2 separate regions of the Homo sapiens genome follow, and region 1 is linked to region 2. The links come from fine-mapping of genetic effects on gene expression. A gene starts in region 2. The other region holds a variant in brackets. All regions are shown on one strand. Distances are between the middles of the regions. Region 1 overlaps CACNA1A (calcium voltage-gated channel subunit alpha1 A). Region 2 holds the start of CACNA1A (calcium voltage-gated channel subunit alpha1 A).

What was found.
Region 1: its variant is fine-mapped to the expression of CACNA1A in blood mononuclear cells (TOPMed, PIP above 0.99).

What each region holds. Positions count from the first base shown.
Region 1 is chr19:13,204,717-13,210,081 of GRCh38, reverse strand. It overlaps CACNA1A (calcium voltage-gated channel subunit alpha1 A), which reads left to right. Exons shown (of 47, transcript NM_001127222.2): 45 at 584-770; 46 at 1,073-1,326; 47 at 2,029-3,640. The coding sequence ends at 2,769. Among named protein-coding and RNA genes, the nearest start is that of IER2, 57 kb to the right of the region's middle. RefSeq lists enhancers at 366-1,266, 1,573-1,842 and silencers at 1,253-1,442, 1,523-1,572. The variant C/A (reference allele first, on the strand shown) is at 2,916.
Region 2 is chr19:13,503,148-13,508,512 of GRCh38, reverse strand. It overlaps CACNA1A (calcium voltage-gated channel subunit alpha1 A), which reads left to right and starts at 2,034. Exons shown (of 47, transcript NM_001127222.2): 1 at 2,034-2,581. The coding sequence starts at 2,289. RefSeq lists an enhancer at 466-992.

The sequences.
Region 1 (5,365 bases), 300 kb after region 2:
CCCACCCAGAGCTCCCTAGCTTGGGCCTCACCAGAAGGACTCAGACTTGTGGGGGCAGCGAGCACAGCCCCGTTAGCCGGGAGGACCCAAAGCTGCCATGCCGGGCACCTGGTCCTGAGCCCATAGGTCAGCCAGCCACAGTCGGAGGCTTCTCACCCTCCCAGGAGAGCAAGCTGGGGCAGGGATGAGTGCGGCAGTCCAGGGCTCCCAGGTTTGCACCCTGGATGTGGAGAGGGCTTCCCTCTGGCCAGCCTGAGCCTGCCCAACTGTGGCTGGGCCCCCAGGACTGGAGAGTGAGGATCAGATCTTTCTGGTCAGAACCCAGGATGGGCTCAAAAGGAGCAGTCCTGTCTCTGAGGGACAGAGGAATCCTCAGGCTCCACCCTCAGAGGCCTGGCCACACCCAGAGCCCTGATTGATCAGGGGGAGCCAAGGCCCCATGGCATCCCCTGGCCCCTGCCCCAGGATGGTCACACCGCAGTCACCGAAGGCCACCACCAGGCTGCCACAATGGGGCAGGAAGGACCGGGACCACTTGGTGCTAGCTGCTGACCCCAGCCCACCGGCCTGTCCCCTCCCCCAGACCATCTCAGACACCAGCCCCATGAAGCGTTCAGCCTCCGTGCTGGGCCCCAAGGCCCGACGCCTGGACGATTACTCGCTGGAGCGGGTCCCGCCCGAGGAGAACCAGCGGCACCACCAGCGGCGCCGCGACCGCAGCCACCGCGCCTCTGAGCGCTCCCTGGGCCGCTACACCGATGTGGACACAGGTGGGCAGCCCTGTGGTGCTCAGGGACAAGCAGAACAGAGGAGAGGAGAGGGGAGGAGAAGGCAGGGCGGAGGAGACACTAAGGAAGAAGAAAGGGAGAGGCCTCCATGGAGAGGGGACAGAGGGGGCCAGGCAGCAGCTGCAGGAACCTGGGTACTACCCCCTCCCCCCAACCCACTGACCTGCCTCGGTTCAGGGGATCTCTAGGGCCCCCACACCTTCCAGGTGGCCTCCTGTGTGTGCATCTGCCCCACCTCTCCCTCACGACCACCTGTGTGTCTGTCTGACCCTCACCCGGCCCAGGCTTGGGGACAGACCTGAGCATGACCACCCAATCCGGGGACCTGCCGTCGAAGGAGCGGGACCAGGAGCGGGGCCGGCCCAAGGATCGGAAGCATCGACAGCACCACCACCACCACCACCACCACCACCATCCCCCGCCCCCCGACAAGGACCGCTATGCCCAGGAACGGCCGGACCACGGCCGGGCACGGGCTCGGGACCAGCGCTGGTCCCGCTCGCCCAGCGAGGGCCGAGAGCACATGGCGCACCGGCAGGTGGGTGCGGCTGCAAGTGACCCCAGGCTGGGCTCGGCCGGGAGGCGGGGAGGAGAGAAGGGGATACCCCATCCAACAGCCACTCTAGGCAAAGGTCCCCGGATCCCGGCTGTGACCACCTCCCATCCTGCCCCCAAGCCACCGGGGTGCCCGGCGGCCGGAGCGGACACGGATCCCCACCACACCAGCTGCCTATGCTGTCCCCCCAGCCCCCTTGCCCACCCGCCGCCCCCTCCCCGCCGCCCGCAGCTGCTTGCTCCTCGGTTGTGGATCATATTTGAGTTCTGGGCCGTGCCGCCCGACCTTTCACTTTCCTTTAACCCGGCTTCTGTTTTTGTTTCAATTATGATTTCTGTCCTCTGGACGCCTGTGAGTAATTTTTGAAACTTCTGCTATTTTTAACCCCGAAACTTACAAAACTCCATTTCTCATTTCTCTTTTCACTTTGTTGTGTTGGTTTTCGACTCCTCCCCTCCCTGTCTCACTCCCCCTCCTCCCCTCCCTCCTCCCTGTGGCTGTTGCTTTTTTCCATTCAATGTCCTGTGTCCCCCCTCTCCTCCTCCTCCTCCTCCTCCCCCTCCCCCTCCTCCCTCTCCTCCCGGCCCCTCTCCCTTCGCTCCCCTCTCTTCCTCCCAATCCCGTGTCTCCTTTGATTTTGTTGTATCTTTTTTTTTGATTTCCTTTGTTTCAATTTTCGTGTAGGGCAGTAGTTCCGTAAGTGGAAGCCCAGCCCCCTCAACATCTGGTACCAGCACTCCGCGGCGGGGCCGCCGCCAGCTCCCCCAGACCCCCTCCACCCCCCGGCCACACGTGTCCTATTCCCCTGTGATCCGTAAGGCCGGCGGCTCGGGGCCCCCGCAGCAGCAGCAGCAGCAGCAGCAGCAGCAGCAGCAGCAGGCGGTGGCCAGGCCGGGCCGGGCGGCCACCAGCGGCCCTCGGAGGTACCCAGGCCCCACGGCCGAGCCTCTGGCCGGAGATCGGCCGCCCACGGGGGGCCACAGCAGCGGCCGCTCGCCCAGGATGGAGAGGCGGGTCCCAGGCCCGGCCCGGAGCGAGTCCCCCAGGGCCTGTCGACACGGCGGGGCCCGGTGGCCGGCATCTGGCCCGCACGTGTCCGAGGGGCCCCCGGGTCCCCGGCACCATGGCTACTACCGGGGCTCCGACTACGACGAGGCCGATGGCCCGGGCAGCGGGGGCGGCGAGGAGGCCATGGCCGGGGCCTACGACGCGCCACCCCCCGTACGACACGCGTCCTCGGGCGCCACCGGGCGCTCGCCCAGGACTCCCCGGGCCTCGGGCCCGGCCTGCGCCTCGCCTTCTCGGCACGGCCGGCGACTCCCCAACGGCTACTACCCGGCGCACGGACTGGCCAGGCCCCGCGGGCCGGGCTCCAGGAAGGGCCTGCACGAACCCTACAGCGAGAGTGACGATGATTGGTGCTAAGCCCGGGCGAGGTGGCGCCCGCCCGGCCCCCCACGCACCCCACGCACACACCCCACCCGAGGAGCCGCGCAGAGGCCGCGGGGGCCCAGCACAGAGGGCCCGGGAGAGGGCCAGCCGGGAGACCCCAGACTCTGGAGAGGCCAGGG[C/A]TGGGCCACAAGGGTGTCCCGCAGAGACCCTCGGCCAAAAGAGACCCTCCTGGGCAGCCACGGCGCCCCCCAACCAGCCCCGATCCCCCCACCCACGACAGGGGCTCTCGGGTGGGAGGCAGGGAGCAGACAAACCACACAGCCAAGGGATTTGAATTAACTCAGCCATTTTTGGAGAACTTTGGGGAACATGAAAAAAAAAAAAAAAAAAAAAAAAAAAAACATTTTTAAAAGAAAAAACGGGGAGAAAAAAATAGCTTCTATTGATGAGTTTTATCATCTCAATTGAATCTTTCCTTTCCCTGATGAAGACAGCTGGTGGCCGAGTGCGGCAAAGAAGCCAGAAGGAACCAGAATCCCAGTGCCCTACACCCACCACCAGACACACTCACACCCACACACGTTCTCAGACACACACAAGAGTGCTTGCCGGTTATACCAAACCCTACTATTACTGCCTGCAGAAATCAATTTAAAAAAATAATAATAACAATAAACAATTTTAAAAAGGACAAAAAAATTAATGATTGAGAAAAGAGGCATTTTTTTCTGACATTTGGTCCTGCTTGAAACAACAAAAGAAGAAGAAAAACCCACCATCACCACCGATTCCTTTGCTTCTTTTTTCCTTTTTTCCTACCTTGTTTGAAAACCGTGGGCTTGGGACTGTGAATTATTGCATGACATTCAAAAAGAAAAAAAAAATAAAAAAAAGTTGAATCAAAGGGCTTTTGGATAGGAGTGGTCTTTGTCCCTTGGCTAGGTGCTGCCTGGGTGGGTCTCTCTTGGGGAATCATACAAAGAGGCACTTCTTTGTTAGCTCCTAGAAGCACTGTTTGAAAGCGACAAGGAGGCCGGGCATCATGCACGCCTGTAATCCCAGCACTTTGGGAGGCTAAGGCAGATGGATCACTTGAGGTCAGGAGTTCGAGACCAGCCCGACCAACATGGCAAAACCTCATCTCTACTAAAAATACAAAAAAAATTAGCCATGCGTGGTTGCACAAACTGTAATCCCAGCTACTCCGGAGGCTGAGGCATGAGAATCACCTGAGCCTGAGAGGCGGAGGTTAGCAGTGAGCCAAGATCCCACCACTGCACTCCAGCCTGAGTGACGGAATGAGACTCTTGTCTCAAAATAAAAAAAAAAAAGGCAGGGCGCGGTGGCTCACGCCTATAATCCCAGCACTTTGGGAGGCCGAGGTGGGTGGATCACATGAGGTCAGGAGTTCACAACCAGCCTGGCCAACATAGTGAAACGCCGTCTTTACTACAAATACAAAAATTAGCCACGCGTGGTGGTGGGTGCCTGTAATCCCAGCTACTCGGGAAGCTGAGGCAGGAGAATTGCTTGAACCCAGGAGGCGGAGGTTGCAGTGAACCAAGATCGTGCCACTGCACTCCAACCTGGGTGACAGAGCAAGACTCCATCTTAGATAATTAATAATAATAATTTGGTCTCGTGGACACCAACCCCCGCCCCCACGAAGTGTTTCAGCCATCCCCAGAGTCCAATACCCCTTTGAGAGCTTCTGTTCTCACAACAGTACCTGACCCATAGCAAGCTACTATTGACTATCACCATTACTACTGTAGCATTAAGGCAAACATTTTGAACAGGTCTTGTTCCAGACAACAGGCCCTGCTTGAGCTTACCTTGGGTAAGAAATCTGCAGACTCCAGATAGCAAGACAGGTGTAAGTCCTTCTAAAATAATGGTAAGCCAAATGTGGTGGCACACACCTGTAGTCCCAGCTGTTCAGGAGGCTGAGGCAGGAGGATCACTTGAGCCCACGAGGTCAAGACCAGCTATGATCACACCTGTGAATAACCATTGCATTCCAGCCTGGGTGACGTAGAAAGATCCCATCTCTAAAAAAATTAAAAGTAAAAATAAATAAATAAAATAATGGCATCTAGGAAAAGATCAGTCCAACGAGAAGTCAAAGTTTTGAGGTCGAGTGCGGTGTCTGACTCTTGTAATCTCAACACTTTGGGAGAATCACTTGAGGCCAGTAGTTCAAGACCAGCCTGGGCAACATAGCAAGACGCTGTCTCTAAAAAAAAAAGTTTGTTTTTTTTAAGGCTGGGTACAGAGGCTCACGCCTGTAATCCCAGCACTTTGGGAGGCCAAGGTGAGCAGATCACCAAGTCAGGAGTTTGAGACCAGCCTGGCCAACATAGTGAAACCCTGTCTCTACTAAAAATAAAAAAATTAGCCAGGTGTGGTGGTGCATGCCTATATTCCCAGATACTTGGCAGGCTGAGGCAGGAAAATCGCTTGAACCTGGGAGGCAGAGGTTGCAGTGAGCTGAGATTGCGTCACTGCACTGCAGCCTGGGCGACAGAGTGAGACTACGTCTCAAAAAAAAAAAAAAAAAAAAATGGAATGGAAGGGAGGGAGGGAGGGGTTTAACTTTCTAACCAGGCAATCTGGCAACCACCACAGG
Region 2 (5,365 bases):
AAACCCCTGGCCTCAAGCAATCCTCATGCTCTGCCTCCCAAAGTGCTGGGATTACAGGCGCAGACACCGTGCCCTGCCAGATGAATCTTAAAGACATAATGTTGAACCGAAGAAACAAGAAACTGTAGAATATATACTATATGATTATTCCATTTATATAAAAGCCCAAAAGAAGCAAAGTAAAATTGTATTGGTTAGGAACGCATAATAAGGTAGTCAAACTTTTTTTAAAAAAGCAAGATATGAATACCATAAAGTCAGGTAGCGATTATTGCTGGAATAAGGGGCTGTGTAAGCGTGTTGGCAAAGGGGGTTCTGCAGAGGTGGTGATGTTCCATTTCTAGCCCTAGACTTGATTTCATGAGTGTTCATTTCAGACCAATTTCTTAACTCCGTACCTTTATGTTTTATGCATTTTTCTTTGTGCTTATTGAATTTCACCACACAAAAAGCAGAATGGGAAGTAATCAAAGTGGTTCTGGAGAGACGTGAGTATCAAGCAAACTATACCACCCAGAACCCCTATCCAGCCAACTAGGACCTGGTTAATTATTTCCTCCTGGGAGTTCAGACTTGTCACCTCTGGGGTCTCCAAGGTAGAATAAACCTTTAATTCCAACTTGCAGGAGTCCTTGTGATTTGAAACGTTCACAGAAGTAACCCCAAACCACTCTCTCCACTTTCAAAAATGGTCTTTTGCTAAACAGAGCAAATTTGTTTAGAGACTGACGAATCGCACCTCTAGACACAAATCCCCTTCTCTTTTCTGTCTTTTAAGTTTTTTTCCTGCCTCCATCCTGCCTTCTCCTTGCAAGATGCTGGGGAGCGTCCGGCTGTCTGCAACCGAAATGGAACGGGGTGGAAAACAGGCTTTCCTCCCAGGGGAGGAGGAAGCACCCCAATTCCCCCCTCCCTGCCTCCCAACCATGCGACGCTCCCCTCTCTCCCCCACAAACTCCGCTGAGCCCGGTACCCCCGCGCCTCCACGAGCCTCCACGATTGGTCGCGGGCCCTCATGTGTCGACACTCTGGGTGGGTCCTTCTACTGTTAAACTCATCAATTGCTCCCCTTTTCCGTTTGCTGGCCAGTGGTTCAGACCTTTGCGCCCATTTTTTTTTCCTCTTTACCTTCTTCTACCCGCAACCCTCCACACCAGTCTTATTTTAGCAAAACCTAGAGAAGGAGGAGGTGGAGGGATTTGGAGGGTGGAGAGGCATTGCCGCATCCAGGGGCAGCTATTGAGTGGCTAAGCGGAGGGCGCATACCTCTCTCTCTCTCTCTTTTCCCCCTGTTGGGAATTTTCAGGATTTCACTGCTGCAATTTAACCCCAAGATGAGGCACCATTGAGCGAAACGCTGTGCGCACATACACACTCACACTTCCTCCGGGAGCAGAAGAGGCAGCCGTTGGTGATTCAGGAAGAAAAAAAATTTTTTTTTTTTTTTTTAAACCTGGACCCTGCGGTGTGAAGACTCCTTAGGAACCCTCTGGAGCGTCTTACTCCCCTTCCCTCCTCTTTCCCTTCCCTTTCATCTTCTTTGTTTTTATTTTATTTTATTTTTGGAGCTACAGATCTTTCAGCATTTTTAAGGTCTAGGAACTCCAGCAAAACAGAAGGGCACTTAATTTTTTTTTTTTTTTTTTTTGCCCTCCCCACCCAGACCTGGGTTTCGTCTTTCTTTATTTTTAAATATATATATATTTTTTTATTTTTTATTTTTTATTTTTTTTTAATGGGCCGAGCGCACTCCTTTTGCAAGATGCCAGCCTGACCCGGACCTCGGAGGAATTTGAAGCTTCCACTGCGTCCCGGGGGGGGCGTCCTTTGCAAACCGTTCGCGTCTTAAAGGGGGTGTGCGTTGGGTGGATTTTTTTTTTTTAACTGTCTCTTTTTTTTTTTTTCCGGAGTGGGTGGACTGGGGATTGCCTGGATTCCTTCCTCGGTTATTTTTTGCCTCGCTTCTCTCTCCCCTCCCCCCTCCTCCCCGGGCCCCCGCGCCCCGCCCCCGCACCCTCCTCCCGCCCCTCCTTCTCCGGGGTCAGCCAGGAAGATGTCCCGAGCTGCTATCCCCGGCTCGGCCCGGGCAGCCGCCTTCTGAGCCCCCGACCCGAGGCGCCGAGCCGCCGCCGCCCGATGGGCTGGGCCGTGGAGCGTCTCCGCAGTCGTAGCTCCAGCCGCCGCGCTCCCAGCCCCGGCAGCCTCAGCATCAGCGGCGGCGGCGGCGGCGGCGGCGTCTTCCGCATCGTTCGCCGCAGCGTAACCCGGAGCCCTTTGCTCTTTGCAGAATGGCCCGCTTCGGAGACGAGATGCCGGCCCGCTACGGGGGAGGAGGCTCCGGGGCAGCCGCCGGGGTGGTCGTGGGCAGCGGAGGCGGGCGAGGAGCCGGGGGCAGCCGGCAGGGCGGGCAGCCCGGGGCGCAAAGGATGTACAAGCAGTCAATGGCGCAGAGAGCGCGGACCATGGCACTCTACAACCCCATCCCCGTCCGACAGAACTGCCTCACGGTTAACCGGTCTCTCTTCCTCTTCAGCGAAGACAACGTGGTGAGAAAATACGCCAAAAAGATCACCGAATGGCCATATCCTTTTGCCCGAACCCCAGCAGCAGCTGCGCCTCCCCCTCCTCCCTCCGCCTCCCCTCTTCCAGGCTGGGAGAGAGACCCGGGGGTTGATGGGAGGTGGGGAGGAGGGGGGTCTTCCAGGGGCTGGGAGAGGGGGCACCGGGAGGAGTGTGAAAGAATCTCTCCACCCCGAGCTGGGTTGAGCTACCCTGGAGGCTTGGGAATGGGTTTGTGGGGGGCTGGGGGGTGGGCAGCGGAGAGTGGATCCTTCCCAAGGACCGACTCTAGAATGAGATCTGGGGCCTGGGGTCGTGCAGGAGCCTTGGTGGGGGCTTTCGAGCCAAGTCCGGAGGGTTTGGAGTTCTACGGAGTGAGCTTGGAGCGGGCTCGGGCCTGGGCGCTTCTGGCCAGGGCAGGGGAACTATGGGGGCCTTGGTTGGGTTTTCTTGGCCGTCGCTCACTGGAGTCCACGCAGGGGAAGCTGGACAGCCTCTCCACTACTGCTTTCCCCAAGGTGGGGGGCCGCCGCACTTTTAGGGCAGGGCGCTTGGGGGCTCCCAGGGCTAAGAGCAAGAGGGAGTCCATGTGGCCTTCACACTGAGAAGCCAGCACTGGCCGAAGTGAGTACCCCAGGGTGGGCCGCTGTTCCTATCTGGAGAGGATAGTGATGGGCTGGGGGGCGCTTATGTTTCCCTCATGTGTGCAGGTCCCATTGCCTTTAACCGCTGATTGGGGAACCTCATCATCTTTGGGGGTGTCGAGAAAGAGATCCCACTTGCTTTATCTGGGCCCCTGGCCTGGGAAGACCTGATCTGGACACTTTCAGTAAGAAAGACAGGGCAACAGCAAATGAGGTGGTGGGTCCATTTTAGAGCACCATGTCCAGCTTTTCCTACCCCGAGTAGCCGAGAGGGAACACCAGGAGAATCAGCACCCATGTGGACATCTTAGGTAGGTAAATGCCTTTTAAATTTTTTTTTTTTTAATCAAAGATCCAGAGGAAAAAGGTGAAGCCCACATTTTCTTCTGTGGAGATGCTATCAAAATGCAGATCTTCTGTGTTTCTTTAAATCCCTGCCTGCTTGAAATAAACCTTGAGGAGGGCTTAACATCTATCGAGATGTAGGCAGGCAAGGGTGGGTAATTAGTCGGGCTTTCTAGCAGTTATCTAAGCATGACCCAGATTCCAGGAGGGGGGACACACCCTGCTGCCCAGGCTGGCTGGCCACTGTGCCATGCCCAGATGTGCCGCTTCTCCGCACAGTTCCAACCAGCTGCCCTCTGTGTAAAAATGAACGGGCTGGATGGGTCCCTGGGGCTCAGCGATGAGTCCCCTATCCCTTTTGTATGTGGTTTTGCAGTTATAGACTAAACGGGGCTGGGCCCTGTGTGGTCTCCGGGGGTTGCTGTTTGAGGAGCATGGCGGGTGGTAGAGGGACTCACTTCAGGGGGGTTCAAAATCGAGCCTGGCGCTTGGATCCTGGGTGCTGGGATTGCAACAGAGGGCACTGAGGTTTTGGAGTGTGTGAGTGGTCTACTTTGAGGGTGGGGAAAATTAAGAAGTTCAGCAGAGGTGCTTTTGAGGGGAGCATACCTCTAACTACGATGCCATCTCCGTTGGTGCCCAAAGCAGGTGCCAGGTCTTTGCTTCCTAAGTTTCAGACTCTTAAAGAGGCTGGTTCTTAAGGTTAGCAATTCCTCACCATCCCAGGCCCATTGAAGTGCTCAGGGGTGGCTTGATTACTCTGCCTATCAACAGAGTGAGGAGTGGGAGTGCCTTGCAGGAGGACAGGGTATTCATGGGTGCACACCCAGTTAGCTCCAGGAGTGAGAGGGCTTTGCTCGGCTGACAGGTTTCCTCATTGAAAATGGCTTTAGATCGCCTTCTGGAGCCTGGATTTGGAGACTTCTAAGAGGAAAGGAAGGAGGTGGGGAGCCCTTCTGCTGTGTCCTTAGCTTACCTCTGTCCAGCCTGAATCCTGCAGATTGGAGGGCTGTTGGGGGAGAGGGGGATTGCAGTGGCCCCTCGGAAGGGGGAATCGTGGGAGAGGGAGGCAGGTGAATTGCGAGTGTTGCTTGCCACTTCATCTATTCTCTGGCCAGCTCGCCCGGGGCTTTCTTGCTCTTATGATGAGTTTGTGCATTATGCTCTCTGCAGACTGTTTTTGTTCTCTTTGACCCGAGGTAACAAACACATTATACAGCCCTACTCTGGAAGGGAAAACTCCCCACCTCACAATCTGTCATCGAGCTGGGTCATCCAGGACTGAGCTTTCTCTGTCCTGGATGGAGCGGAGGGCGGTGGCGGGGTGGGTGGGAGGGTTGGAGATGAGAGGGGATGGACAGAGACCTGGGGAGGGAGGTAGTGAATAAAAGAATTCAGGCCAGTGTAAAGAGAAAGACACGTGGAATGTCAGAGTCACGATACCAGGGCAGAACATTCTACTTTTTAATCTAAATATTTCTGCCATTAAAAAAAAATGTTTCAGCATATCCTGAGAGTGAAAAAAAAAGTGTGTAGGTACTTAAATAAAGTCTAATATATGTACAGGCAAGTACATATATTCAGATGCATAGATTTTTACAAAATGAACACACCCACGTATCCAGCACCCAGGTCCCGATCAGTGCCCTGGAAGTCCCCCTCCCCATACCGCCTCCTAGTTGCTCCCCCAACAAGGGTACCGCTCACCTGACTTCTAAGGTTCATTTTGCCTCTTTTAAACATGTAAATGGAGTCACACAGTACGTTCTTTTGCCACTGGCTTCTTTTGCTCACATCTGTGTATGTGACTCTACTAC